Linked DNA regions of Homo sapiens. The gene in region 6 interacts genetically with the main gene of each other region. Each region holds a gene or a part of one and is shown on either strand. Other genes may lie near its edges. The genes, in order: CTBP1, NPRL3, UBE2J1, SEC31A, RAB1A, SEC24C and TRAPPC12.

Evidence for each region.
Region 1: changes in SEC24C (region 6) and CTBP1 together harm fitness less than expected from each alone (positive genetic interaction), as found in Homo sapiens cells (one large-scale study listed by BioGRID).
Region 2: changes in SEC24C (region 6) and NPRL3 together harm fitness less than expected from each alone (positive genetic interaction), as found in Homo sapiens cells (one large-scale study listed by BioGRID).
Region 3: changes in SEC24C (region 6) and UBE2J1 together harm fitness less than expected from each alone (positive genetic interaction), as found in Homo sapiens cells (one large-scale study listed by BioGRID).
Region 4: changes in SEC24C (region 6) and SEC31A together harm fitness less than expected from each alone (positive genetic interaction), as found in Homo sapiens cells (one large-scale study listed by BioGRID).
Region 5: changes in SEC24C (region 6) and RAB1A together harm fitness less than expected from each alone (positive genetic interaction), as found in Homo sapiens cells (one large-scale study listed by BioGRID).
Region 7: changes in SEC24C (region 6) and TRAPPC12 together harm fitness less than expected from each alone (positive genetic interaction), as found in Homo sapiens cells (one large-scale study listed by BioGRID).

Annotation. Positions count from the first base shown.
Region 1 is NC_000004.12:1,211,131-1,214,630, forward strand, and holds the end of CTBP1 (C-terminal-binding protein 1), read right to left. Parts: intron 3,344-3,500; coding exon 3,213-3,343; intron 2,476-3,212; coding exon 2,348-2,475; intron 1,901-2,347; coding exon 1,783-1,900; intron 1,641-1,782; exon of another isoform or gene 1,545-1,640; intron 1,410-1,544; exon of another isoform or gene 1,297-1,409; coding exon of another isoform or gene 1,294-1,296; coding exon 1,110-1,293; 3' UTR 315-1,109; downstream 1-314. UniProt on the Homo sapiens protein: Corepressor targeting diverse transcription regulators such as GLIS2 or BCL6. Has dehydrogenase activity. Involved in controlling the equilibrium between tubular and stacked structures in the Golgi complex.
Region 2 is NC_000016.10:86,674-90,173, forward strand, and holds part of NPRL3 (GATOR1 complex protein NPRL3), read right to left. Parts: intron 3,230-3,500; coding exon 3,040-3,229; intron 2,218-3,039; coding exon 2,025-2,217; intron 198-2,024; coding exon 32-197; 3' UTR 1-31. UniProt on the Homo sapiens protein: As a component of the GATOR1 complex functions as an inhibitor of the amino acid-sensing branch of the mTORC1 pathway.
Region 3 is NC_000006.12:89,342,723-89,346,222, reverse strand, and holds part of UBE2J1 (ubiquitin-conjugating enzyme E2 J1), read left to right. Parts: intron 1-2,466; coding exon 2,467-2,540; intron 2,541-3,500. UniProt on the Homo sapiens protein: Catalyzes the covalent attachment of ubiquitin to other proteins. Functions in the selective degradation of misfolded membrane proteins from the endoplasmic reticulum (ERAD) and is essential for cells to recover from ER stress.
Region 4 is NC_000004.12:82,877,654-82,881,153, reverse strand, and holds part of SEC31A (protein transport protein Sec31A), read left to right. Parts: intron 1-231; coding exon 232-355; intron 356-2,225; coding exon 2,226-2,424; intron 2,425-3,500. UniProt on the Homo sapiens protein: Component of the coat protein complex II (COPII) which promotes the formation of transport vesicles from the endoplasmic reticulum (ER).
Region 5 is NC_000002.12:65,086,354-65,089,230, forward strand, and holds the end of RAB1A (ras-related protein Rab-1A), read right to left. Parts: intron 2,718-2,877; coding exon 2,586-2,717; intron 2,338-2,585; coding exon 2,140-2,337; 3' UTR 501-2,139; downstream 1-500. UniProt on the Homo sapiens protein: The small GTPases Rab are key regulators of intracellular membrane trafficking, from the formation of transport vesicles to their fusion with membranes.
Region 6 is NC_000010.11:73,754,372-73,757,871, reverse strand, and holds part of SEC24C (protein transport protein Sec24C), read right to left. Parts: intron 1-3,500. UniProt on the Homo sapiens protein: Component of the coat protein complex II (COPII) which promotes the formation of transport vesicles from the endoplasmic reticulum (ER).
Region 7 is NC_000002.12:3,473,694-3,476,879, reverse strand, and holds part of TRAPPC12 (trafficking protein particle complex subunit 12), read right to left. Parts: intron 1-3,186. UniProt on the Homo sapiens protein: Component of the TRAPP complex, which is involved in endoplasmic reticulum to Golgi apparatus trafficking at a very early stage.

The DNA.
Region 1 (3,500 bases), on a different chromosome or scaffold from region 6:
GGCAGGACCTCAGCCAGTCACACCATCATCCACACAACGGCCCGGCTGGCACACTGCTTCCCTCCCACTGGGGCACTGCGGGCAGGCCGCCTCCAAGCCAGGACCCTACAGCGTCCCACAGACCCAGTGGGCAGAGGGACAGGCCCGGTACACACAGAGACCACTGCCCAACCTGCCACTGCACTGTCTCTGGGTCTCTCTTAGGCCGCCCACTTCAGAGAGGCTGAGCTGAGCCGTGGAGGTCACCAGAGCCAGGACTGAGGCTCACCCGTGTCCTCATGAGAGAAAGTCACCAGAATAGATGCTGGGCACGCTGGCTCTTTCCAGGATTTTTATTTCTTTAAAATAATTCATACAAATGGTTACAGTCACAAACATGATTTTAACCAAAATATTGCTAGCCTACCACATCAGCAGGACGGCACTGGTGCAGGCGGGGACGCTGCCACCCTCCACGTCCCCAGGACAGACGTCGATGGGCAGCGGGCACGCTGGGCACCGCCCAAGCTTTTCCTTTTGGAGCTGCTTCGTGATGCCGTCTTCATTTGGAACAAGGGGGGGTTCATGCCAAAATTAGGAAAAACAGCCTTTGTTTTGTTTTTCTAAATTATTCTAAAAATAAGACAAGCAGGTAGAAAAAACAATGCACTGTGTGGCATAAAAAGAAAAACGGGAAGGATTCATTGTCCTGAGAAGTTTGCCAACTGCCTCATTCTGGGGCACGTTCCAACATACAAAAAAAAAAAAAACAAAAAAAAAAACCTCAAATTGACTTCCAAATGCTCCTTCAGGTTTTCTTTTTGTTGACAGCTAAGCAAACAGATCCTTTGTAATGTTCTAAAAACTGTACACAGACAAGAACGTTCATGGGAGAATAACTACTGACTTCTTCTGCTTAACGAGGAACGCGAAGGACACAGGGCAGAGCGCCCACAGGACGGACGACGACAAGCGACACGAGGCCCAGCGCTGCCCCCTCCCGCCTCCTGACAGCCCGGACCAGTCTCTGCAGTGCCAGGGCCACCACACAGATGCCTCCTCCACACACTCTGGTCCGAGGGTTTCCGGGCCCTCTGCCCAGGCGCCGAGGCTGGAGAGCTCCTCCCGGGCTACAACTGGTCACTGGCGTGGTCTCTATCCGCCTCGGGCTTGACGGTTTGGCCAGGAGAAGGGGCGTGGGGCGGGTGGGCCACAGGGGGCAGGCCGTGGGACAGGGACATGGCGCTGGGGACGATACCTTCCACAGCAGCTGGGATGCCAGTGGGGGCCACGCCCACCACGCCCGGAGGGTACCTGCTGGGAGAGGGTCCATCCGTGAGGCCCACCTGTAGGCGGCCTGGCCAGGCCCCACCTGCCCTCCTAGCATCGGCAGCACCGAGGGGGCCTCTCCAGGAGGACCAGCAGTCAGGGTAAGGATCCCGGCCTTTACACGGATGTTCCTGCCTATGGCAGCTACTTCTCAGGGCTGGGGAGGGGAGCCCTGGTGTCTCCAGGTGACTTGAACATGAGGTCTTCGCCTCACCCAAAGCCCCCTCCTCCCACAGGCCCCGTGCCCATGGCACTCCTGTGTCCACTGAGCCCTGAAGGCCACCCCAGCCCAGGCTCCTTCCAAGAGGCCCTGGTTCTCATGGGCCTTTCAGGTGAGGTTGGCCTTACCAATTCTACCCAGATCCTCCAGGTCAGTCAGTGGAGACGCCGCCCCTCCCACCAGGGGCTGTGCTGGGATCCAGGGGAAGCCTGGGGCCCTCCTGGAGGCTGTTCTGGGCCAGCGGGCCTGCTCACCTATAGGCAGCCCCATTGAGCTCAGGGTGCACGACGGCGGGGTCCATGCTGGCCCAGTGGGTGGCGGCTGTCAGATGGTCCTTGTTGACACAGTTCTTCAGGCTGTCTGGGATCCGGCCTGGGAGATGCAGGAGGAAGGAACAGCTGTGGCTCTGAGGGGGCCCCAGGAGCGTGGCCCACTGGGTTGAAGACACGGGCAGCAGGATTCTTGGCAGTGTGCTCCTCCCTCTCAGCCCCGGGGCTCCCAAGGCACGGCAGGGTCCTGTCTCTCTGGGCACTGGCACCCTTGCAGCGTGGGGACCCCCAGCCCAGAGCACGTGCCCAGCTTGCTGAGGGACCTGTCTGCTCAGCCCAGCAACTTCCCAGCAGGTCCTGTGTGTAAGACACGACGCCAGGGCTCAACTTGACTTTGGCCTTAGAGGTCCCTGCTGGGGGTGCAGTGAGAGCACCACGGGCCCTGAGCTGGCAGAACATGGGCCTGGCTGCCAGGCGGATGCGAGCCCATGAGCATCTGGGGCTGGCAGGAAGGGACCCCCAGGCCTGACCGAGCGGCCCCCACGCCCACCTGTGATGGCTCTGCGGATCTCCCGTGCCGCCTCCTCTCGCATCTCGATGGATGCCTGCTCGCTGTACCATGCAGCATGGGGGGTGCAGATGAGGTTGGGTGCATCCTTCAGAGGGCCCTGGCTAAAGCTGGGAACAGCACAGGCATGGTCAGTGCAGCCTGAGTGCTGTGGCTGGGTACGGAGGGGAGGTGGCTGGGCACTGGAACCCCCTGTGGGGGGCCCTGCCTGGGAACCACAGACCCCACGGCCCTGCTCTGCTCGGCAGGCTGGCTGAGCTCAAGAGCACAGCCCCGGGACCATCAGACACACCAGGGGCTCCTGACAGCGGCGGGTGTGGGAGCCCAAGGGATTTAATCTCCAAGTCCCTCGTGGGAGGAGCCCTGATGGGGGGACATGCTGCCTGGCCCCTTCCAGCCAAAGGGTCTGTAGCCCCAGGAGCTGCAGGCTGATACTGCCCCTGTGGGGGTGTCTCCTCTTGCGGCTGAACATCCAACCCAGGGCTGCCTGGGGTCCCAAGGTGCTGTAGGGGCTGCAGGTCTGGACGGGATGCCATGACTCCATGGCCAGGGCCCATGGGGACCACTCACAGACACTGGGGCCTCACTCTCTCCTGGTTGGTCAGGAGCCCTGCCCAAAGAAGGGCTGAGGAGGTTGAGCAGCCCCTCACAGGACCGAGGCAAGGCAGGCCTAGAGCCCGTGGCTCCATCCTCACCCCGCAGCGGGCGGCAAACTCCCCCACTGCTGGCCAGCGAGAGGCCTGAGTACAGGCAAGTGTCCGGCCTGGCAGAGGCGCCGTCTGGAGGTCAAGGCCGGCAGGATGGTGGACAGGGAAGAGCAGGGGGGCGGCACTGGCCGTGGGGGCACCTGAAGGGTTCCGACTCGTGCACATCCAGGGCCGCGCCGCGGATCCGGCCCTCCTTCAGGGCCTGGGCCAGCGCCTTCTCATCCACCAGGCCACCCCGGGCTGTGTTCACCAGGAAGGCCCCTTGTCTCATCTAGAAGACATAAGGACAGGCCAGGCCCAGTCAGGGATCCGCACAGGGCGGGCAGCCAGGGAAGCAAGGTGGTCACGCACGCCGTTGGGAAGGCCCAGCTCCCTAGCCCCTTCCCAGCCCCACCCTGGGCTCACCACGGCGCTAGGACTGAAGGCCT
Region 2 (3,500 bases), on a different chromosome or scaffold from region 6:
ACCCCAGCAGCCTTCCGCCCTCCGCCTGGGCTCAGGGGAGCAGAGCCTGGAAGACGGCAATGACAGGGTCCTCGTGGGTGGTCACCACCAGCACGCTGCGGAACTTGTCAAACAGCATGAGCAGCTGGGAGCGCCGCGTGTTCTCGTTGTACATAATCTCCTCCAGGTGGTGGCGGCCGCGGAAGTAGTGAAGGAGCCTGGAAGGGATGGGTGGGTGTGAGCCCAACCTGACACCAGCCCCCAGAGGCCTCTGCTGAAGAGCCACTGCTGGGAATCAGCTCTGAGCTGCCCACAGGCCTGAACAGAGCTGGTGGTGAAGGCCAGGGAGGCAGCCACCACAGCCCCCCAACAAGGGTGGGCAGGCCTCCTGGACCCCATGCCCACCACGGTCCCGCTGACCACCAGGTGGGCGGAGTGGGTTCAGGACGGCAGACGGCTGTTCAAACCCAGAGGTGCCCAAGCCTGCGTCCTGATGTTGGGACCAGGGTTCTGCTGGTGGCTTCTTTTTCGTGCTACAGTGAGTCCCACGTAGCTCTGGAGCCAAATGGTCACTGCTTTTTTTTTTCCTTTTTTTGAGAGACGGAGTCTCACTCAGTCACCCAGGCTAGATTGCAGTGGCTCGATCTCAGCTCACTGCAACCTCCCGCCTCCCAGATTCAAGCGATTCTCCTGCGTCAGCTTCCCAGGTAAGCTGGGACTACAGGAGTGCGCTACCACACCTGGCTAATTTCTCTCTTTTTTAGTAGAGACAGGGTTTCATTATATGTTGGCCAGGCTGGTCTCGAACTCCTGAACTCAGGTGATCCACCCACCTCAGCCTCCCAAAGTGCTGAGATTATAACCGTGAGCCACTGTGCCCAGCCTGCTTTTTTTTTTTTGAGACGGAGTCTCGCTCTGCTGCCCAGGCTGGAGGTGCAGTGGCGCGATCTGGGCTCACTGCAACTCCCGCCTTCCCGCCATTCTCCTCCTCCCGCCAAGCTCCGCCTCCCGCCTTCAGGCCATTCTCCTGCCTCAGCCTCCCCAGTAGCTGGGACTACAGGCGCCCGCCACCACACCCAGCTAATTTTTTGTATTTTTTAGTAGAGACGGGGTTTCACCATGTTAGCCAGGATGATCTCGATCTCCTGACCTCGTGATCCACCCACCTCAGCCTCCCAAAGTGCTGGGATTACAGGCATGAGCCACCGCGCCTGACTTTTTTTTTTTTTTTTTTTAATGTCACCATCATTTGGAAGGTCACTGCTTTAGGGTGCTTTCTGCAACTCAGGCTGGCACAGAGGAGGCTAGGATGCAGGTGAGACCTGGACCAGCTGCTCAGAAGAGTTGCAAGTGGTTCTCTCGAGGGCCGAGTGTGGTTCTCAACCGGAAACTCAGTCCCTGACAACCCGACCACTCCCGGGAAACTATGCCCCTGCACTGTCCCCCAAGTCAGGGTGGGGCTGACAGAGACCACTGAGCCACATCACCTTTAACATGGGGGACCCTGGATGCCCGCAGGGCTTACAGTCCTGGGCAAACCCCTGCCAAGTCCCATGAGGGTGAGAACTTGGCACTTAAATTAGCCGGGCGTGGTGGCGGGCGCCTGTAGTCCCAGCTACTCAGGAGGCTGAGGCAGGAGAATGGCGTGAACCCGGGAAGCGGAGCTTGCAGTGAGCCGAGATTGCGCCACTGCAGTCCGCAGTCCGGCCTGGGTGACAGAGCGAGACTCCGTCTCAAAAAAAAAAAAAAAAAAAAAGAACTTGGCACTGCCTCTCAAGGGAAAAGGAACATCTAAGAAGTACTGGAGAGAGAAGAGTCCGAAAAATAGGCATGCCAGGCCCATGGCCCGGCGTCTTGGTGACAAGCCGAACCCTCAGGCCTGGGCAGTGGCACCTGCCCCTACACACCTGAATGCAGAGACTCCATCTCGAACAGGGCCCCATCTGTTCTCAGTGGATTTGGTGGTTCTGTTGCGTACGTCCCTATCCACTTTCTGCCCTGACCCTGCAACTGGCCCCAGTCCCAACGGGTCAACCTACACCCACCTGGCAAACATGCGGAGGTCCTCAGGGTTCTGGGCTGCGGGTACACTGAGGATGGCTGCGCGTTCATGCTCCGACAGGCTGGCCAGCAGGTTCTCCGTCATCCTCTGGTTCAGTGGCGAGTCCCCGCTGGGAAGTAGCTCTGCGCTGGAGTTGTCCATGCTGGGGCTGGTGAGGGTCATGTCATCGCTGCTGGCTGTGGGGGACATGGGTCAGGGTGACCAAGTGGAATTCCAGGACACCCAGGGGAACAGCGAGGGCAGAGCCAGCAGCCAGCCTCCAATGACACCCCTAACTCCTACAAGGGTTAGGGTACATCTGCCTGCAAGCATTCGCTGCTGCCCCACCTCCTGGGTGTGACACGCCCCTCATACGGCTGACTTGGGAAACGGGTAGCCTCCCCTCTGGGGGCAACCTCAAGGGACCTGAACAGAGGTGCGATGTGTGCCCCACAAACACCCCAAGGTGGGCCTGGGCATCCTGTCCCTCACCCAGGATGGAGGACAAAGCACCCTGGGCAGGTGGGGTCCTCACATGAAGCATGAAGCCTACAGCCAGACCTCAGCCAAGGGGGGACTTTCAAAGTCTTCCACCCCCTTCCTTCCCCAAGCCTGGGGACCGGGGACCTGGGACCTGGCAACAGGCTGCTGCCCTCAAGCCACACTGGCCATGACGGCTCTTCTGGGGCGCAGAGGTGTCAGCTGTCCTGGTAGTGGTATGAGATCCTGCTCTGCTCCCAGGCTGGGGCAGAGATTCCAGCACTGATTTGCTGGGCTGGGAGCTGCCCCTAATTCTAGCAAGCCTGCTGAAGAGCCCGGAGACAGAGCTGCCACCTCAGAGTCACGGTGGTGCTAGGAGACAGGAGAGGTGTCTCCACGGGGGACACGAGGCACGTGCATGTGCGTGTGCAGCTGTGTGGAGGCCCCTCATCACTCACAGCACCACCCACGTTGAGCCTCCTGGATGCCACCCCCAAGCGTCTCCCCTGACTACCACAGCGGTGCCCTGGGGGTCCTACTTGGGGAGCCAAAGCTGAGGGCGTTGGGCGTGCTGAGGCTGCGACCGCCGACCCGGGCAGTGAAGGGGACGTCGTCCTCTCGCGGACGGGGCTCCTCCTCGCTGGGTGAGGCCATCAGGCAGACATAGGTGTGCAGCTGGATGAGAAGCCGGCGCTGCAGCATCCACACCACCATCTGGATGAGCTGGGTCTGCGGGTGGCAGCAGGTGAGGCTGGTCCCCCTCCCCACTCCAACTTCCTCCTGGGTGATCAGGGAGCCATGGCCCTAGACATGGCCACAGCACGCTCCCTGTGCTGACGCACAGGCAGAAAGGCCCTCTTCTCAGAAAGGGAGCCCCCAGCTGCCAGCCAGCTCTGCAAGGCCCGCTCACCCTCCTGGGAAGGGAGAGGGGCCAGGGGAACATCTGGATCACACCTGCACAGGCTCCCACCACACACCGGGGCCACCCAGCATCTGGCTG
Region 3 (3,500 bases), on a different chromosome or scaffold from region 6:
AAAGAATATTAATAATTGTGAAGTAGGATAGTAACAACTTTTTTTTGGCCAGGCATGCTGATTCCCGCCTGTAATCTCAGCACTTTGGAAGGCTGAGGTAGGAGGATTGCCCGAGACCAGCCTGGGCAAGACAGGGGGACCCCAGCTCTACAAAAAATTTAAAAATTAGCCAGGCATGGTGGTGCATGCCTGTGGTCTCAGCTATTGGGGAGGCCAAGGTGGGAGGACTGCATGAGCTTGGGAGGTTGAGGCTTCAGTGAGTGAGCTGTGTTCGTACCACTGCCCTCCGGCCTGGAGGGCTTTTTTTTTTTTTTTTAGACGTAGTTTCGCTCTTGTTGCCCAGGCTGGAGTGCAACAGCACGATCTCAGCTCACTGCAGCCTCCACTTCCTGGGTTTAAGCGATTCTCCTGCCTCAGCCTCCCTAGTAGCTGGGATTATAGGCATGTGCCATCACACCAGGCTAATTTTGTATTTTTAGTAGAGATGGGGTTTCACTATGCTGGTCAGGCTGGTTTCAAACTCCTGACCTCAGGTGATCCACCTGCCTCGGCCTCCCAAAGTGCTGGGATTACAGGCCTAAGCCACCGTGCCTGGTTTTGTTTGTTTGTTTGTTTGTTTTATTGAGATAGTCTCTCTCTGAAGCCCAGGCTGGAGTGCAATGGCACGACCTCAGCTCACTGCAACCTCCACCTCCTGGGTGCAAGCGATTCTCCTGCCTCAGCCTCCCGAGTAGCTGGGATTACAGGCGTCCGCCACCATGCCTGGCTAATTTTTGTATTTTTAGTAGAGACAGGGTTTCACCATGTTGGCCAGGCTAGTCTCGAACTCTTGACCTCAGGTGATCCACTCGCCTCGGTCTCCCAAAGTGCTAGGATTACAGGCATGAGCCACCACGCCTGGCCTCAAATGCAATTTTATGCAAAAGTCTTGATACATACCAAACCATTGTGGTTATATACATGTAGGGGTTCCTTCTCAGTTAATCTCTCTCCCCATAACATTCCAACCTGTGCCTCTACACATTTTACTTTTATTATTACCTCTTCCTATTCATATCTACCTGGGGAGTTTCTACTGTTATTTCTTTCACATTCAGTACCTGACTCCTTTTCTCTTCCATTTGCTCTAAAGTTAGATGCCCAGCCTGTCCTCCCAGCATCTGGTGCATACCTCTCTTTTGAGCTACATCAGTGGTTGCAAACCCAGTTTTGAGAAGCCTTTTCCCTAACTCAGCCATCCCACTGCAGTATCCTGACATGTTTTAGCACCAAAAGCTTGAAATGAGAGGGGTTGGGATCCAGAGTGCATATCAAAGGATTGAATTTTGAGAGCCAATAGAAGACAGAGGGTGCAGATACAGATAGGATTGTAGATTGTGATAGGCATCTGAGCAGCTCCTGCTAGCAGTCATTCATCAGGGAGATAAAAAGCTGGGTGCCATTAACTGAAAGAGAGGAGAAATTAGACTAGGTGGGAAATAATCTTGGAGTGCTAGGTGGAAAGAGTAGGCTGGAAGGCCTACTAGAGAAATGTGGGGACATTAGGTGGCATTGTATCCCAGTAGAGGTTGTTGGTAATGACTTGTAATGGCATTACTGCACCATCCTCTCTGACTTTTTTTCCTCCTTTCAGTGATGCTCAGCTGTTTGGGTATAGACAGCAAATAAGATGGTTGGGTTGGGTCAGGCACAGTTGGATTTTATTAAGGGAGTGTACAAGAGGGACTCCTAAGAGCCAAGGGTGTGGATAAAGAGGAAAATGAATATAAGTATAGGAGGGGTGAAGAAAGTTGTGGGGTCAGTGGACTGGAGGTTTTAGTGAAGCTGAAGGATCATTTCAAGAAGGAATTTCATCGGGGCTTTGGAGAGTCAGTGAATTCAGGGGACAGTCCATTCATTTAATGCAAGATAGTGGATGGAAAGTCCCAAGAGTTGGAGGATATAGAGGTGTTTCCTGTTCACCGAGCATGAGATCCAGAGAATACATTTTTTGTTAATAAAGACATTTTAACAGGTAGAGCCAAATTGCCTGTGTTGGAATCCCATCTCTGTCATTTACTAGCTGTGTGACTATATAATCTCTCCGTGTCTCGGCTTCTTCATCTGGAAAATGGGGATAAAAATAATACCTATCTAGTAATGTTGTATTAAGGGTTAAATGAGTTATTAATGTCTGTAAAAGCACTTCAATAAATACCACCATATAGGAAGTATATATAAGTACTTATTAAATAAAAATAGTGTCTTCACTATATATTTAATATATAACTCTTTTAAAGTGTTAATGCCTAGCAACTGTTTCCTTCCTCTCCCCCTCTATTTATTCCCATAATCTTATAATTAAACCTTTGCCATATGCTCATTTGCACTAGTTCTCTACACATTTTTTCATTAGGCTCGTAAGACTGTGCTAATCATTCAGAAAAGTATATTTTAAATATCTCTATTTTATGAATTTTATTTTAGCTGTTAAACGTTTAATGAAAGAAGCGGCAGAATTGAAAGATCCAACAGATCATTACCATGCGCAGCCTTTAGAGGTTAGTTTCTATCTCCATGTTCTTCATATGGATTTTAATATTTAAAACAAATTTTTTAAAATTGCTTTTCATTGCTTTGAGTCATTACAGATGTGTGTGATGTAGTTTGACGTTTTATTCACCATATTTCATGAATATTTCATTAGCCATTCCAAATCACTTTAGAAGAAACGGATTTTGTGGTCTTTATAAAATGGGTCTCAGATGCTAAGTTGAGGTTAGATCTTTTTTTTTTTTTTTTTTTTTTTGAGGCGGAGTCTCACTGTGTTGCCCAGGCTGGAGTGCAGTGATGTGATCTCGGCTCACTGCAACCTCTACCTCCCAGGTTCAAGCAATTCTCCTGCCTCAGCCTCCTGAATAGCTGGGATTACAGGCCCCCACCACCACGCCCGGCTAATTTTTGTATTTTTAGTAGAGACAGGGTTTCACCATGTTGGTCAGGCTGGTCTCAAACTCCTGACCTCGTGATCCACCCGCCTTGGCCTCCCAAAGTGCTGGGATTACAGGCGTGAGCCACTGCACCCGGCCGAGGTTAGATCTTGAGTCTGAGGGAGGGGAGGTGGAAAGAACCCCAGATACTTTACAGTTTGGAAGCCTTTTGATGGGTCTCCGTAGCTACTCAAGGCTTTTTGTATAAACATCTCGGCCTCTCTCAGTCTTCTCATTTGTAAAAGGAGGGTATTTAAATATACCCAGGCAGGTTTTCATGGTAACAGTGGGAATAAAAATATCATAACTTAAGTGCAAGTATTTTGTAAACTGAAAAGTACATGGTAACTGTAAGATGACATTAAATACATTAGTATTACCATTTTATAAATAAGCTCTTAGGCATCTATAAGGGATAATTTTTAAAGATTTGTTAAAATAACCCAAACATAGTAATTTTTTGATTATATAATTATCATAATTTGCTATTCTTTCAAGGATTAATTTCCAATTTAAACCTGTAAGTTACTT
Region 4 (3,500 bases), on a different chromosome or scaffold from region 6:
TTAAATATATACAGGCTTAAAAAATTATTTACACTACCCACTCTTATAAACATCCTCTCCTAGCCCTGTGCCAGAATCTCATTGCTATAGTAATTTAAGCATCTGCTCAATGGCATATGTGCAGCATTCATGAGCAAGAGAATGGAAAACATGCTTTTAACTTCTGTTTTGTATGGTTTCTCTGATCTTTTATTTTTGTGTGTATAGTTACCATAAATATATTTTCTATAGGAACATCTGCTCAGCAATTGGATGCAACATTTAGTACGAATGCTTCCCTTGAGATATTTGAATTAGACCTCTCTGATCCATCCTTGGATATGAAATCTTGTGCCACATTCTCCTCTTCTCACAGGTATGAGGTTCAGCTTTAAATTCATGTGATTATTTAATTATATATTGTTCTTGATTCCTAATTTGTCTATAATTATGCCATTATTAGAAACTACAAGGAATACCATCAAGAACATGAAATATTTTGTGAAAAAGCATGTGAGTGAATTTTTATGGAAGTAAAAGTAGTGTTTATGTGTTCTATTGACTTTTTTTTTTCTTTTTTTTTTTTGAGACAGAATCTTACTTCATAGCTCAGGCTGGAGTGCAGTGGCACGATCTCGGCTCACTGCAACCTCCACCTTCCAGGCTCAAGCAATTCTTGTGCCTCAGCCTCCCGAGTAGCTGGGATTACAGGTGCACACCACCTTGCCCAGCTAATTTTGTGTCTTTAGTAGCGACAGGGTTTTGCCATGTTGGCCAGGCTGGTTTTGAACTCTTGACCTCAAGCAATCCACCCACCTTAGCCTCCCAAAGTGCTGAGATTATAGGCATGAGGAATCACGCTTGGCCAGTATGTTCTGTTGGCTTTTTTATTGCTGTTACATGTAAGGTAGGAAGGAGAGGCTGTAGTTTCTAGCATTTTTTTCTGTTTTTTTGGTGTGTGTGTGGTTTTTTTTGTTTTTGTTTTTTTTTTGAGATGGAGTTTCACTCTTGTTGCCCAGGCTGGAGTGCAATGGCGCAATCTCGGCTCACCACAACCTCTGCCTCCTAGGTTCTAGCAATTCTCCTGCCTCAGCCTCCCGAGTAGCTGGGATTACAGGCATGTGCCACCATGCCTGGCTAATTTTGTATAGAGTTCTTTTTTCTATCTCCTTTATTGTGCCTGTTTACAAAAAGGTAGATGTGACTAGAAAAGGAGTAGTCATCGTAAGTATTAATAGTGATTATCTCTGAATGGTAGCTTATTTTTATTTTCTTCTGTTACGATATTTAGAAATATATCTCACAGTTTTGTTGACACGATTTCTAATACACTAGGTAACTAGGTATTTGGATCATACTTTCAAGTACTTATGCCCTATTGTAATGCAGAGAAAGGAGGTCTTCATTTCAGTAATAAAATAAGCTTTATTGCCTCAATATATTAGCAGGGTTTAAAGAGATTGCTCTTTAGCTGACAGAATATAGCTCAAATCATGCAGTTTCATGGGACCGCTCATATTCTTCAGAGCTGTCACAGTGGGATGGGAACCCCAGATACCTTTTGTCTAGTAGTTTTTCTGCTTACTACCATCTGTATCATCGTATACCTTTCTGCCTTCATATTTCATCTCCATTCTGGACCATATATTTTATTCTCTAATAGTAGGGGTACTTGTTATAATCTTGATGTCATTTTTCTACCATTAGAATACATTCTTTTTCTTAGAAAATTTCACATGACTCCTTTAACACCTTTACTATTTAACAGACCACTTGTTAGTGACCCCCCCTTTTTTTTTTTTTCAGACAAAGGTCAAAGCATGAGACCCTTCTATAGTCAAATAAAGAGTGTTTTTACCTTTCGAGGGAAGTGATTGATTAGCTCTATTTTACAATGAACCAGAGGCAATTTAAGAAGATTAAGTAACTTAGGGTCTCACAGTTTCTAAATGGTAAAATCATTCTTAAGCTCATATTTTTTGACACACAACTCAAGTATATTTTGTTACACTACCTTACAAGAGTTTTTACTCTTTAAGGATTACAAAATCACATATGCAAATATGAGTATAAATAAAAAATGAAATACTATTACACCAAAGTCATACATAGTTACCAGGAGTGGTGGGAAAGTAATATATTTGGATTGTTTATGAAAACATTAAAAATTAAGTGTATAATTTCAATTTTTTGTCTACATTTATTTGACTTTAAGAATGAATGATTTTATTCATTTTCTCCTGTAGGTACCACAAGTTGATTTGGGGGCCTTATAAAATGGATTCCAAAGGAGATGTCTCTGGAGTTCTGATTGCAGGTGGTGAAAATGGAAATATTATTCTCTATGATCCTTCTAAAATTATAGCTGGAGACAAGGAAGTTGTGATTGCCCAGAATGACAAGCATACTGGCCCAGTGAGAGCCTTGGATGTGAACATTTTCCAGGTTAAGACTTTAACATTTCATAATTCTTAGACTATGTGCTGCTCATTTGAAATCAGTATATGAATCTACTATGCCTCAGTTTTGGAATTGAAAGTTAAAAAACTGTGGCTATACAGGTTGACGAGTGTTTGTTTAAAGAATGGTGGGTTCAGAGTTGAGATCAGGGTTAAAAATACTACCTCCATGAAAAGGATCCGGCTGATAGGTTTTTGTTTTTGTTTTTGTTTTTGTTTTTTTGAGACGGAGTCTCGCTCTGTCACCAGGCTGGAGTGCAGTGGCATGATCTTGGCTCACTGCAACCTCTGCCTCCTGGGTTCAAGTGATTCTCCTGCCTCAGCCTCCCGAGTAGCTGGGATTACAGGCGCCTGCCACCACGCCCAGCTAATTTTTGTACTTTTAGTAGAGATGGGGTTTCACCATGTTGGCCAGAATGGTCTCGATCTCTTGACCTTGTGATCCGCCCGCCTCGGCCTCCCAAAGTGCTGGGATTACAGACGTGAGCCACTGTGCCCAGCTGGCTAATAGGTTTAAGTCTGAAGATGTCACGCCATTTGATTAGACATTTTATAAACATTAAGATCCCTATAGGTTGGAAACCTTGCCTTTTAAAAGTTCATGCTAGGTCAGCATTAGGCTGGTGCTGTGATGTCCAGGTTAATTCACTGTTTTATTAATTGAGAAATTTTATGTTTATGACAGAGATTAATACTCTATGAAATAATTAGAAATTAAATGTAATGGCTGGGCATGTGGCTCACACCTGTGTAATCCCAGCACTTTGAGAGGCCGAGGCAGACAGATCATGAGGTCAGGAGTTCGAGACCAGCCTGGCCAACGTGGTGAAACCCCGTCTCTACTAAAAATACAAAAATTAGCCGGGCATGGTGGCAGGCACCTGTAATCCCAGCTATTCGGGAGTCTGAGGCAGGAGAATCGCTTGAACCCGGGAGGCGGAGATCGCAGTGAGTTGAGATCGTGCCATTGCACTCCAGCCTGGGCAACGAGCAAAACTCAAAAAAAGAAAAAAGAAATGTAATGCAGATTTAACAAATAGTCAATTAAGATTCTTTGTACTG
Region 5 (2,877 bases), on a different chromosome or scaffold from region 6:
TTAAAACCTGTAGTAGCTTTGAACCGTTTGTACTTGAAAATGGGGGTATAAAGGGGTATATATTTTTTCCAGAACCACATTTATTGGCGTATACATAGAAGCAAATCTTAAGGCATGCTGAAATTTGTTGTAAATCCCAATCTTTACTGCCATGGGGAAAAGAACGCTGGAATTTTCCAAACTTAAGTCTGTAAATATGCTCATCTTAAGTTCATGTAATGTTTCCGCTAACTCACCAAGAATAAGCTGACAATTTAAACAACTTTTACTGTGTAAAAATGAAGTGCACGGCATGGCATCACAGTATCTTGACATTTGTTTTGTGTCATTTAGCTACTTTAGAAAATAGTTTCTGAACTCTTTCCCCCTTTATACTGTATTAAGGCAAAAACAAAACTTCTGAAGCATTAAAGATCTTCACCAAAATAACTATTGGTAACTTCAGGAATTTGTCAGTTGCCTTATGTGAGGATGAATAGATCCACCAAGCACGCCTATAATACAAAGTAAACTATGATTTTTATTGTGAAATTTTCATAGATGGAAAATTGAATATTCTGTCCATTTCATTTTACAATTATCTTACCACTTATTTTTGTACCATGTATTTCAATTGCCTGTTTAGTGAAAAATAAAAATTAAAAAAACCTATTCATTTTTGGCTTGTGTTTAGCTTAAATTTTATCATTAAATTAAGGAGCCCACAACAAAATGTGTTGCCAGCAGCCATATCCCAAGCCCCTGCGTGAAGAATGTTTTGGCTGCTATTTCAACCTAAGGAAACAACGTTTGACCTCAGTCACCTTAAAATGCCAGTGTGGGCAGAAGATTTTTTATTCCTCACAATTAAAAACCAAACAAAACCCCCTAGGATCTTGAAGGTCCTATTTCAGAAAATCTTCATATATGCAAAATGTCACCAAAATAAATACATTTGCCTCAATTATCATTACCACCCAGTATTCATGTTTTAATTTTTAGGGATATAATTTCTAAATTTAGAGCAATCAAATTTCCTGCTTCCTATCTTAATGCTTAAACCCTCCTCCAACACCAAGTTAAGCAACTGTGGAGGATAAAATAGTTGAATCTGACTGAAAGCATGGAAGAAAAACATTAGCACACATTAGTCTGATCATTTGCCAATTAGGAAAGGTGCTGCTTTCTACCTCTACCACAGATGCATTTATGAAATGTTGATCAATGAAGCTATTTCAAATGGTTTTAGAGAAGGATCAGAGATAACGGGCTAGATAGCATACATTCTAAACTTGTTTTACATATAGTTTGAGCTCCCTGAACCACTGAAGTTGGTTAAATCCCTACACAGCACAGAAGCCCCTCTAGGTCATGTTATTGGGCATATTATCTAGAAAGCAAATACTGGATGCTGCTCTAAGATAGGTCTAGAATACCTTAGTTTGCATTGTGCACACACAAATGGCTGTGTTGAATATAATGCAAGGCTCTATTTCCCTTTAACCATAAGAATCAAAACAATACTTATCACCATACAGTTTGATATTACTTCCAATAAGTACAATATTTATTAAACATATCTTCAGTTGTTTTGTTACATAGTGTGCAACAAATTACAATATTCTGCAGCCACAAATTATATGCAGAGTATGAAGAAACTATTAATCAGATAGTGTAATCTTTCCATTTATAACTCTACAAGGAAGAACTAGCAAATCAGATCTTACATATAACATCTCACTAAACTTTATGCATGGAAAGTGACAGACACTGCTTGTGCTGTTTGATACAAAATGGCTGAACTTCATCTTCAGAAGACTAAACCTGACATCTAAACATGCCAATATAAACATCAAAACAAAATATATTCTAACCAACCACGGGAAACAGTCTGGTATCAGGAAAGCAACAAGGATTACACACATTATTTTATAAACCAGCACACAAAGGTTTAAAACAGTTCTGAAAATGAAGTTAGCTGTCTTGAGTCAAGGGAATAAAAAAAAAGTCAGTATTGACCATTTACAATCTCTGACCTTTGTGGAGACGGTAAGAATCTGTTGTAGTGCAGCTACATACAGTACAATTCAGGCAATTTTGTTTTTTCACTTGGGTTCAGATTGCAAATTCATTGCTGTGAGAAAAGGATGGAGGCAAATTTTAGCAGCAACCTCCACCTGACTGCTTGACTGGAGTGCTCTGAATTTTAACATTGGACTTCTCAGCACCACCAGCTGTTGCTCCGGGACCCATTCGCTTTTTAATCTCAGCTGCCATCGTCATGAAAGACTGTTCTACATTCGTTGCATTCTTAGCACTGGTTTCCAAAAACGGAATTCCAAGGGAATCAGCAAATTCCTAAGAGAATAATGAGGCACAATTAACACTGAAAAATCTTTTTCACTAATTCTTAGTGCATTTCTACCATCCATAATGGAGCGTGAGGAACTAAGTTCATTGGATCCAAACAGATGCTACACAAATTGTCACTGTCACAGTATTCTAGTGCACATATTTTTAAAAGGCTGTGGCCTTACTGTTACTGCAGAACCCATACATAATTCAACACCTTCAAATTCAGTATGAAAATTAAACTTTAAACATACCTTCGCTGTTGTGTAGTCTACTACTTTCTTTGTGGTCAGATCACATTTGTTCCCTACCAACAATTTGTTGACATTTTCACTGGCATAACGATCTATTTCCTGCAGCCACTGTTTAACATTATTGAAGGACTCCTAAAAAGACATTTGAAAGACTGATAATATAGTTCGATAATATAGTTCTGGAATAAACAGAAACATCGTTCCTGACCTAACAGACAAATAACAAAGAGCTAGTGAGACAACTCTAGCTACAAAATAACCACTGCTAAGGAGTGAAGAGATTTTTTTTTTT
Region 6 (3,500 bases):
TATCTGTGGCTCACTGCAGCCTTGACCTCCTGGGCTCAAGCAATCCTCCCCCTAAGCCTCCCCTCCCAAGTATCTGAGACCACAGGCACACACCACCACACCTAGCTAATTTTTTTTATTTTTTGTAGAGACAGGGTCTTGCTATGCTGCCCAGGATAGTCTTGAACTCCTACCCCGGCTTCACAAAGTGCTGGGATTACAAACATGAGCACTGTGCCTGGCCCAACTCTAATCAAAGTGCCTTTCTCCGATAATCCCTTCCAGCCCGGACTGAGGTGTGGTTGTTCTACATTTGTTTCCAGAAGGTACTCCAATAATGACAGTGTCACCCTAGATTGATTTTTTTTTTTTTTTAGTTTTTGAGACAGGGTCTCACTCTGGCACCCAGGCCACAGTGCAGCGAAGCCATCATGGCTCACTGTAGCCTCAACCTCCAGGGCTCTAGCAATCCTCCTGCCTCCACCTCTGCTTCCCAGGCACACCAACAATGCTCAGCTATTTTTTTTTTTTTATAGCGACAGGATCTCCCTATGTTGCCCAGGCTGGTCTAAAACTTCTGGCCTCAAGTGATCCTCCTGTCTCAGCCTCCCAAGGTGTTGAGATTACTACAGGCATGAGCCACTGCACCTGGCCTCTAATTTAAAAAAAAAAAAAATTAGGCCAGGTGCAGTGGCTCATGCCTGTAATCCCAGTACTTTGGGAGGCCGAGACAGATGGATCATTTGAGGTCAGGAGTTCAAGACCAGCCTGACCAACATGGTGAAACTCCATCTCTACTAAAAAAATACAAAAATTAGCCCAGGCGTGGTAGTGCACACCTGTAATCCCAGCTACTCAAGAGGTTCAGACAGGAGATTCACTTGAACCTGGGAGGTGGAGGTTGCAGTGAGCCAAGGTCACACCACTTCACTCCAGCCTGGGTGACAGAGCGAGACTTCATCTCAAAAAAAAAAAAAAAAAAAAAAAAAAAAATTGGCCAGGAACAGTGACTCACACCTGTAATCCCAGAACTTTGGGAGGCCAACACAGGTGAATCACTTGAGGTCAGTTCAAGACCAGCCTGGCCAACATGGTGAAACCCTGTCTCTACTAAAAATACAAAAAATTAGCCTGGCATGGTGGTCATGCCTGGAATCCCAGCTACTTGGGAGGCTGAGGCAGGAGAATCACTTGAACCCAGGAGGCAGAGGCTGCAGTGAGCTGAGATCGTGCTATTGCACTCCAACCTGGGCAATAAGACCAAAACTCTGTCTCAAAAAAAAAAAAATATTACTGAGATGTAATTTCCATACCATTAAATTCACTTCAAGTGAACAATTCAATGATTTTTAGTAAATTTAGTTATGCAACCATCACCAGAATCAAATTTTAAAACATTTTCATCATTCCAAAAAGATGTCATGTCCATTTGCAGTCCCAAGAACTTTTTTTTTCACCCATCCACAGCCAGCCTGAGAGAAACAGCACTCCTTATCTCCCCTTTCCAGCGTGCAGACTTTTTTCCCCTAGTCAGCTTGTTCAATGAAGGTGCAGCCCAGGTCCAGACTTTATAAACAATGTCTCAGTTCCAAAACTACTCTCAGGAAAGCCCAAGGACTCATCTGCCTTCCCCAGTACCTGCTTAAATTTAAGGCCCTGGCTTCTCAAGATGATGAATCCACCCAATCTACAGGCAGCTCCAGAGTCAATTTACCACTCTGATTTTCAGTCCTCACTTGATGGCCAGGCACAGTGGCCCATGCCTGTAATCCCACCACTTTGGGAGGCCAAGGTGGGCGGTTCACCTGAGGCGAGGAGTTTGAGACCAGCCTGGCCAACACGGTGAAACCTCATCTCTACTAAAAATACAAAAATTAGCCGGGCATGGTGGCCCACATCTGTAGTCCCAGCTACTTGGGAGGCTGAGGCAGGGGAATCGCTTGAACCTGGGAGGTAGAGGTTGCAGTGAGCAGAGATCGTGCCACTGCACTCCAGCCTGGGCGACAGAGCAAGACTCTGTATTTAAAAAAAAAAAAAGATTTTCAGTCCTCACTTGGTCTCTAAAACTTAAGAATTTCACATTTTCTTTCAAGCTTAACTTTGCACTTAAAAATTTTTTTTGTTTCTATTTTCTCTCTCCTTTCTAGACTTTGGTAGCAGAGGGTTTTCAGATTATGTCAATCTACCACCCGGTTGAAACTTTTTTTTTTTCCTGAGACGGAGTCTCGCTGTCTGTCGCCCAGGCTGGAGTGCAGTGGCAAGATCTCGGCTCACTGCAAGCTCTGCCTCCTGGGTTCACGCCATTCTCCTGCCTCAGCCCCCCAAGTAGCTGTGACTATAGGAGCCTGCCACCGCGCCCAGCTAATTTTTTGTATTTTTAGTAGAGACGGGGTTTCACCGTGTTAGCCAGGATGGTCTCGATCTCCTGACCTTGTAATCCACCCGCCTCGGCCTCCCAAAGTGCTGGAATTACAGGCATGAGCCACCGCGCCTGGCCTGAAACTCTGACTCACTCCAACTGGGTAGTTTTCTTTATCTCTACACTGAAACTGCCTTTACCAATGACGCCAACCTTGCCAAATTCAATGGTCAATTCTCCATCTTCATCTTACAATTTGGCAGCATCTGACACAACTGATTACTCTCTCACCTTCTTGAAATACTCTCTTCACCTGACTTCAGGACACCACACTCTCCCGGCTTATCTCCCACCTCACTACTGCTCTTTCTCATTGTCTTTTGTTTTTTTTTTGTTTGTTTGAGATGGGGTCTTACTCTGTCATTCAGGTTGGAGTGCAGCGGTGCGATTTCGGCTCACTGCAACCTCCGCCTCTTGGTTTCAAGCCATCCTCCCACCTCAGCCTCCCAAGAAGCTGGGACCACAGGCATGTGCCACCACACCCGGCTAATTTTAGTATTTTGGTAGAGACAGGGTTTCACCATGTTGCCCAGGCTTGTCTCGAACTCCTGAGCTCAAGCAATCTGCCTGCCTCAGCCTCCCAAAGTGCTGGGATTACAGGAGTGAGGCACTGCACCTGGCCCCTCATTGTCTTTTAATGGCGGCTCCTCTTTACTTTTAAATGTTGCTAAGCTCCAAGTCTCAGTCCTCAATTCCATTCTTTAATCTCAATACTCACTTTTTAAATGATTTCATCTAGTCCCACGGCTTTAAATATCTATAGACTGAGGACTCCCAAATTTTTATCTCCAGTCCTAGCATCAGTCTTGAGCTGCAGATTTGTATATGCACCTGCCTACCTAACATCTCTACTTGAATAGAGTTTATATGAGGGACTTGAGCCTTTGTGGATTTTGGTATCTGTTGGTCAGGGGAGGTCCTGGAACCATTCCCCCATGGATACTGAGGAATGACTGTAGTGAGATTTGGGATACATCTTGAAGGTGGAATCAATAGAATTGGATGTGGGTTATACGGCATCATATTTGCATATAACCTCCCATATACTTTTTTTTTCCTGAGACGAAGTCTCACTCTGTCGCCCAGGATGGAGTGCAGTGGC
Region 7 (3,186 bases), on a different chromosome or scaffold from region 6:
GAATGTGACAGCGAGCTCTGTTATCATGGCAGCAGCAGAAACTTAACAGAATGCTGTCCTCTGTCTCGATGAGAAACAAGCTGAATGCGCGCGGCTCACCTCCATGAGGAGGGCTGGGGCACCCATCACTATCATACTGAGCAGCCTAGTTAACTCTTAGACTGTCCACGCCAAGCATCTGTCCAGCATTAAAACAAGCCTGCTAACTTCTCAGATGACTGGTGGGGAGATGGTTCTCCATGGGTGTCATGTTTCTGCATGTCTTCCAAGCACAGACAGTGACAAGGCTTTGTTCAAAGCATTTACACAAGGATGCCTGTTTAGAGGACAGCCTTGTAAGCTAAACTGCATCCCTCTGGGGCAAAGGGCAGGCAGGCTCGCCTCCCAGTAGCAAGGATTTGGGTGTTCTAAGTTCAGGATTCCTCTCCAGCCACACAGCCCACTGCAGGCCTCATGAGGCCCTCGGTGAAGACCCTGAGGAATCAGGGCCCCGTGGCTGGTGGGAAGAATGCCACTCTGGCTGTACTGCTGTTGCTGTGTAATAAATAGCCTTCCTCTCTAACGTAGGAATCTTACATTTTTTGCCAGCATCCATGAAAGTGGCAGCTAACTCCACAGCTTGGAAACAGGATAACATCTCAGGCCCTTCACAACTGTTGCTGTTATCCCACAAAAGAAATACCATACGAGGAGGAAGAAAAAACAGAATGAAACAAGAGAAAACACAGGCGTGCACACACACCACACACTGAATGGCATCTGTCCATCGCTGCCCGTCGTCTGCACAGTCCGAAGCCGTTTGAAGTCCACTACTATCGATTTCCCACTTGCGGACTAAAAAGAAACCGAAGGCAGCATGGGCTCCGTGACGCGGCCCTCAGCTCGAACGCCTGCATCTCCTGTCTAACAGGACCGTGTGAGACACTGAACTGAAGATGATTACAGCCCATCATCAAGACCGATCAAGATTAACGTGTGCCGGCGGCCGTGGCAAGCGCTTACAAGCACAGCTCGCCTGACCCTCGCGACAGCCTGGGATGCAGATGCTGTCGCTAGCTTCGCTTTCTAGATGAAGTCGTCGGGCTTGGAAAGATGAGACAATTTTCTGAGGTCACACAGCTAACACAGAACACTGTGGTCAACACCCAGGCTGTCCAACGCCCAGACCGTGTGCTGATCCTCCGCACTGCAAGGCCTCCTGAGGCTGGCATGGGACTTTACTCAATGTCTCAGAGGAAGATAACAGAGAAATCTTGGGATATTCTTTGCTACCCACTGACTTTCCTGATGATTAGAAAGTAACTTGACATTTTCAGAATTATTAAAATGTAATTAGGATACAAAATCCTACCGATTTCTAAAAGTTAGGAGCAACTGAAAAAATTAAACATAAAAATGCAATTAAAAGTATTCCAGAATATGTAGAAAACAAATCAGTAAAAGACACTATTAAAAAGGAAATACAGTGGCTGGGCATGGTGGCTCACACCTGTAATCTCAGCCCTTTGGGAGGCCGAGGTGGGAGGATCGCTGAATTTCAGGAGTTCAAGACCAGACCGGGCAACAAAGTGAGACCTTGTCTCCATTAAAAAAGAAAAGAAAATTAGCCAGGTGTGGCTGTAAGCACCAGGTGTGGCCGTAAGCACTGTGGTCCCCAGCTACATGAGAGGCTAAGGCAGGTGAATCTCTTGAGCCCAGGAGTTCTGCAGTGAATCATACCTGTGCCACTGCACTCCAGCCTGGCAGACAGAGCAAGATCCTGTCTCACAAAGAAAAAGACAAAAAACAGTGTATAAACTAATCCAGAAAAAGGAAGCATAAACAGAAATGTAAAAGTAGAAATAGCTACAGGCAGAACAAGGAAATGGAAATAATGGTAAGAGCACTGTCTTTTACTCTGTGCGAATCCACGAGAAAACAGGGACCAAACAGGTGGCTTTCTAGAAAACTCTCAGTTACCAAAATGGTTCCCAGAAACACAGAAAAATCCTCAGGCACACAACACTAAGGCAGATTCATAATAATAAATTAGGAAAAGCACACAGCACACCTCATGTGCTCAGCAAAGGCAATTCTTAGGTGAATACTCAAACCTTCAGGGAATAGATCATTCCACATTACTCAAGTTTTCCAGAGAGAGAGAAAGCAAGCTTCTAACTTATATGAAGACAGAAAACAGCCACCATATCCTTTTGAGATGTCACCTGTGCACACGCAAACCAGATACTAACATCACTTATAAACGCAGAAACCCGGGGAAACGCCGCCCTGGAGCTCCGACCTTAAGAGCAACACATGGTCAGTGTTTCCGTGGCAGAAACTGGAACTGTGCGCTGGGTCTGGCCCTCCCCTCCTTGGGCGCTGTCAAGGTTAATACTGAGTGTCAATTTAATTGAAGGATGCAAAGTATTGATCCTGGGTGTGTCTGTGAGGGTGTTGCCAAAGGAGATGAACACTTGAGTCAGTGGGCTGGGGGAGGCCGACCCGCCCTTAATCTGGGTAGGCACCATCTCTTCAGCTGCCATCACAGCCAGAATAAAGCAGGCAGAAGTTGGAAAGAGCAGACTTGCCGAGGTTCTGGGACTTGGACTGGCTTCCTTGCTCCTCAGCTATTGTGGGACCTCACCTTGTGATCGAGAGTCAATTCTCCTAATAAACTCCCCTTCATAGATTCATCTATTCTATGAGTCCTGTCCCTCTAGAGAGCCCCAACTAATACAGGCACTGAGGGGTGGGGGAGAGCTCCAGTTCTCAGCTCCTTCACCTGCTTCTCTGTCACAGTTTTGGGATTCCTCATCACCTTGGTGGCACGGAAGCCATTACAGATGGGCAATGGCCATTTTAAAGTGTTCTCAAGGCGGAGTGTCCTGCAGTCCATGGCTGTGAGCTGTTGACTGGAGAGGAAGGCAAGAATGATTCTTCTCTGTGGTGTGGGAGTCAGATGATTTTAAACCATCCAAAGACAGAACAGCTATGTTAACAGCCACATAGGTTGCTAGATGATATTAAATCTGTAGTCAGCTAGAAAACCCAGTTCTTTTCATATTTACCACTGATCAACTTTAGTCACAGAAGCATAGGTCTGCAATTGATACAGAAAACTCATTTCAGCTGGGCCCAGTGGCTCATGCCTGTAATCCCAGCACTTTGGGAGGCAGAGGCAGGAGGATTGCTTGAGGCCAGGAG